Linked DNA regions of Homo sapiens: region 2 is linked to region 1. A link means that fine-mapping ties the variant in region 1 to the plasma level of a protein whose gene starts in the linked region. Region 1 holds a variant in brackets. A gene starts in the other region. All regions are shown on their reverse strands.

Region 1 (3,024 bases):
TGGTCTAGGGACAAAAACAGACCTTCAGGCAGTTGGAAGACTGTGCAGTTTTGATCTGTCTTTGTGTTCCTGCAGCTGGCCACATACTCCACATAGAGCCTTCTCTAGACCACACAGGTGCTGTCTTCTAAACTGTTGCAGCAGTTTTCTACGTAGGGCCTAATGACCTAAGAACCCCTAAGATCTGAGTCTCCATGGTTAAAGCCCTTCACTCAATGAGACTTGGTGAGGTGCAAATATCATTCCTCACCTTCCTGTTCTTTGGGAAGGATACATTAGAAGAAGCAGCTCAAATCAAATCTCCCCCTTTTATTTTTCTCCCTTTTATATGATGACTCCATTTCTCTGATCCATGTGGCACTTTTCTAAATTGCCCTCTAAACAACATATTAATGTTATTTCCAGATGTTGCCTTATATATAATTCCAGACTTAAGGTGATACAGCCTTTCATCAAGAAAGACTAGTCTTCACCATCCTCCACAGGTTTTTAAAAAAATAATAACCCATATTACACACACACACGTACATACAAATACACACATATGTATGCACACCACACACACGTACTCTACACACACACATTCACACATACATACACACACATGTACATACACATACACACATATGTATGCACACCACACACAATACTCTACACACACATTCACACATACACACACATGTACATACACATACACACATATGTATGCACACCACACACATACTCTACACACACATATTCACACATACATACACACATGTACATACACATAAACATATGTATGCACAACACACACACATACTCTACACACACACATATTCACACATACATACACACACGTACGCACACCACACATACATATATATAGATACACACATACATACACATAAACACATACATATATGTACTAACACCACACACACACACATACCTTGCACATGAGATGTGCAAATGTAGGGACTCTGTCTTTAAGTTTTGAACTTGAAGTTGCTGGTCTAGGATGTTACATGAAAAGCTTAAAACTTCTGGGATAGTTTTTCAGCCTTTGGGACTGGGTTTGAGAAGTGGTTCAGCAGAGGAGCGGAGCCTGCAGGGCTTAGTGTGCATAAATGCGTCTTTGTCTGCGGAATCCTCTAAGTTCAACCACTGTGCGAGAGAAATCTGAGAGTGGGAAGGACAGGGCTAAGAGGATCAAACATGTGTGGTGTCGCCTTCATGGTGATCTGTGTTCCCCTCCGTCTTTCTGCCCGAGGCCCTGTCTTGACAGCTGCCCGTCGCAGTGCACACCAAACCCTCCGTGAATCAAAGCGGAACTTGTCAAAGGGGCCTTTTTGTGGGGTTAAAGGCGATTGGCCTTTCCTAGCTTGGTGGCCCTCATGGAAACAGAAATGAAGTTCCCCCTCAGGCTACCTCCAGCTGCCAAAGTGAGCAGAAAGCATTGCTGTGGCCAGGGCAGGGTGAGGCCTGGGGCCGTGAGACCCCGATCCAGCTGGAGCCTGCCCCTCACTGGCACTAGGCGTGGAGCAAGAGTGGCTGCGGCAGCAGAAATGGGGCATGCAGCCTGCGTGGGCCGGGGCCAGTGAGCACAGGGGGCTCAGTCCTCCTGGGCCGCGGGCTCATCTCCCGCACAACACCGCGTTGTCCTCTCGGAACAGCTGTTTTCATTTCCCCCTCCTTCCTGGAGTGTCATCCAATTATCACTCCCACACACTTCTTGCAGCTGTACTTTATGGATGACAAAC[G/A]TTTTTGCTTTATTGTTCAGGGAGAGCTCCAAACATGAAAAACAGCCGATCATTTATCAAGAGGTTTGAATACTAAATATGCAGCGAGAACCCAGACTGGCTTCGGAGGCGGCAGTCAGCAGCACTGAGGCCTGTCTTCTGGAGGTGTGACCTGTTCAAGTTCAGTCACAGCTTACTGGGGGACAGAGTGTTTTGTGAAAGAGCTAAAATATTGGGTTTTTTTCTTTTTTTTTTTTTAATGCTTTTCTAAAAAGGCTTTGTGCAAGTAACAGAAAGGTGAAAATTATTCACTGTGGTTGGAGCCCGTGAAAAATACGGGGCAGCAGGTTGGTGCAGATGCAGGAAGGGTATGGCTCCACTCCTGGGGTGTCTAACTGTCCTGTTCGCTCGGTACTCAGGAGTTTCCGGGGACGTGAGACCTTCAGTGTTAACAGTGGGACAGTTGGCTGGTTACCCTCTAGCCACTTCTCTCAACTGGCAGAAGGGAGGCTTGTATCCTGGTTTAGATTAAGTCAAAGACAGTTTCTAAACAAAGTAGCTTTAGGGTAAGCCGATTTTTCAGTGTGCTTTAGCGAGGTCCTGGGGATATCACTAATAATTTTGAAAAAGCTCAATCACTTGAACAGTCACAGCTTGCTCCTATGTTCAGACTATCTGCACCACATAGCTACATGTTGCATAGGGCTTAGAAAAATTCGGAGAAGAAAAACTGTGCCCTTTGAGTTCTGGCAGAGAGAGAGAGGAAAAAGATCGCTAGCAAGAGATGTAAGCATGTGTTCATTGGTGGTGATGCTTGCATTTGGTTTCCATTCCTTGTGTGCTGTAGAAAAACACAACAGGCAAGCACAGAGCAACAAGTGCAGTAGGGGCAGGGGAGTGGGCAGGACGCATTGTTTTGCTTTTATAAGATAAATCATCAGCATGCATGGGAAAGGAGCAGCGGTCAGCGGGAGGGTAACCTCGTGAAAGGTGGAATGATATCAGCCTGGCTACCCAACTATGCATCCTTTCTGCGAAGAGAACATGACACAGCTGTTCCAAGGCCTGAGTAGGAGATTAACACGGCAGAAATCACAGTGGCATGTGTGCATTACTTTACCGTTTGCAAAGTACTTTCACCCACTTTATCCTTGTTCGTCCTCACTGCACACCCTGAGATGTGGGGCGGGCAGGGCAAAGATTAGTAACTTCATTCTTAGAAATGGGGATGCCAGCTGGGCGAGGAGCTTGCTTCGGATCACATGGCTAATTAAATCAGAGAGCCAGTACTGAGTCCTGGTCT
Region 2 (2,500 bases), not on the chromosome of region 1:
AAAACACGAGAGTGAGAGTGAGAAGGGCGATTTGGAGATCTAGCCGGACCCCTCACCCTCTCGGACACACCCACCTTTTTTTTTTTTTTTTTTTTTTTTGAGATTTCGTCTCACTCTGTAGCCCAGGCTGGAGTGCAGTGGCGCGATCTCAGCTCCCAGCTCACTGCAACCTCCGCCTCCTAGGTCCCGGTTCAAGCAATTCTCCTGCCTCAGCCTCCCGAGTAGCTAGGATTACAGGCGCGCGCCACCATGCCCAGCTAATTTTTGTATTTTTAGTAGAGACGGGGTTTCATCATGTTGGCCAGGCTGGTCTTGAACTCCTGACCTCAAATGATCCGCCTGCCTCTGCCTCCCAAAATGCTGGGACTACAGGCGTGAGCCACCGCGCCCGCCACACCCACCTTTTCTTTACCGTTGTTTCCTCGATTTTTCTCTACTCCCTAGCGCAGCTTAGTGCGCGCCTCCTCTGGACATTTTTCAGGGCTTGGTTGCGCGCACAGTAGGTCCCCAACACTGAATGTTTATGGGGTGACTGTGTGAACGTTCGCTGCAAGGCTATCCAAACTGGGATTGCTCCTTGAGGCCCCCTGGGCGGCCGTCAATTCTCCAAAGCTTCTACTCCCTTTTCCTTCCTTTTCCCCCAAAACGCAGTCCCTGCGCCCACTAGAGGGTGGTGGGCGCATCCAAGAGCGGCATCTAGAGTCCGCAGCAAGGTCAGAGCGGGCTTTGTGTGCGCGGTGAACATTTACGTGCACGCCTGGGCGGCCCTCCGTGTTGCTGCTGGGTGTGTGTTTTCTCTGCTCCCTGGTGCCAGCCGGGTTCGGGCCTGTCCCGGGGGTCCCTGGGCCCCAGCCCCGACATGCTCGGTCCTGGACAGCGCGCACCGCCACGGCGCACATCTGGGCGGTCCCGGGGTTCCTCACCCGCCGCCCCTCCCCCTTCTCCAAACTTTCTCTCAACTTCCCGACCTGCTCCACTCGGTGCCCCTCTCCGCTTCCCTCATGAATTATTCAGTAGCGTGAGCTCCAATCAGCGCGCCCGGGGCTCACTCGCGGAGCCCCCGCGTTGGGAGAGCTGCCCCCGCCCCCCGCGCGCCCCTCCCTCCCGGGCCCGGCGCCGCCCGGCCCAGTTCCAGCGCAGCTCAGCCCCTGCCCGGCCCGGCCCGCCCGGCTCCGCGCCGCAGTCTCCCTCCCTCCCGCTCCGTCCCCGCTCGGGCTCCCACCATCCCCGCCCGCGAGGAGAGCACTCGGCCCGGCGGCGCGAGCAGAGCCACTCCAGGGAGGGGGGGAGACCGCGAGCGGCCGGCTCAGCCCCCGCCACCCGGGGCGGGACCCCGAGGCCCCGGAGGGACCCCAACTCCAGCCACGTCTTGCTGCGCGCCCGCCCGGCGCGGCCACTGCCAGCACGCTCCGGGCCCGCCGCCCGCGCGCGCGGCACAGACGCGGGGCCACACTTGGCGCCGCCGCCCGGTGCCCCGCACGCTCGCATGGGCCCGCGCTGAGGGCCCCGACGAGGAGTCCCGCGCGGAGTATCGGCGTCCACCCGCCCAGGGAGAGTCAGACCTGGGGGGGCGAGGGCCCCCCAAACTCAGTTCGGATCCTACCCGAGTGAGGCGGCGCCATGGAGCTCCGGGTGCTGCTCTGCTGGGCTTCGTTGGCCGCAGCTTTGGAAGGTGAGTTTCCTTGCGGGGGGGGGCGCACCCCGTCACTCCTGGGACCTCCCCCCCAACATCTGGGCCTCGGAGTGGAGGGGCCGGCCTCTGACTACCCCTACCCGGGCACTGCAGTCCCAAACACTTCGGACCGATAGTGCTGGAACGGGAGGGGGGCGGGGAAGAGGCGCCCGACGGGTAGTGGAGTTTTCTTTTGTTTGGGAAAGAGATGGAGTCTGGCTACGACCCGGGACATTCCCCTGCCCGGGCTCCCCGAACTCTCACTGCTGATTACATACGCCCCTGGCTGCCTTTCCTTTCCTCCCTACCCCACTATTCAAAACTATCTGCAAAGTTTCTGTCCCAGTCCCACCTCCCGCCGTACATGAGGGAAGGTTTCTGGAGAAGCAACAGCAGACAAGGCACAACTTTTCGTGCTAGGCCCTAAAACGACCCCCAGCGCCAATTCCTTAGCGATCACACCTTGATCCTCCAGTTCCACACTCCTGCAACAGGATGGCCTCCTTTGCATTCACACAGCAAACCCCCAAACCGCTCTCCCGCCCACTGCTCCTGCCCCTGGTATAGGGTGGCTCCTTGGTTTCTACAGGCTGCACCCCATCCCTTTAAATGCGGTCTAGACCCCGGCCCCAGGTGAGTCCCGGGCTTCCCTTGAGACCTAGGAGCGGGTAGAAACTGACCTACACAGCCCCCAGGTAGAAACTGACCTACACAGCCCCCACATCGCCCTAACTAACCCAGTCTATCTCCCACCTCCTGGTCTCTCCAAGCATTTCTTTGGCCATGGATCGCTGTCCCTCCTGGTCCCCTAAAGGGGGAGCCAAGAGC

Alleles and levels. Positions count from the first base shown, and alleles are read on the strand shown. Strength reflects both the effect of a copy and how common the allele is.
For the plasma level of the protein whose gene starts at base 1,128 in region 2, allele A in region 1 goes with a lower level than allele G (moderate association).

Evidence for each region. PIP is the chance, under the fine-mapping model, that this variant and not a neighbour inherited with it causes the effect. The UK Biobank Pharma Proteomics Project read protein levels with antibody pairs (Olink). The fine-mapping took linkage between variants from a reference panel, not from the people measured, so its PIPs are less certain.
Region 2: it holds the start of EPHB4, and the variant in region 1 is fine-mapped to the plasma level of the EPHB4 protein (UK Biobank, PIP above 0.99).

Annotation. Positions count from the first base shown.
Region 1 is chr13:105,996,463-105,999,486 of GRCh38, reverse strand. No RefSeq gene overlaps it. Among named protein-coding and RNA genes, the nearest start is that of LINC00343, 290 kb to the right of the region's middle. The variant G/A (reference allele first, on the strand shown) is at 1,743.
Region 2 is chr7:100,826,151-100,828,650 of GRCh38, reverse strand. It overlaps EPHB4 (EPH receptor B4), which reads left to right and starts at 1,128. Exons shown (of 17, transcript NM_004444.5): 1 at 1,128-1,672. The coding sequence starts at 1,621. It also overlaps a transcript of SLC12A9 not described here. RefSeq lists an enhancer at 329-1,124.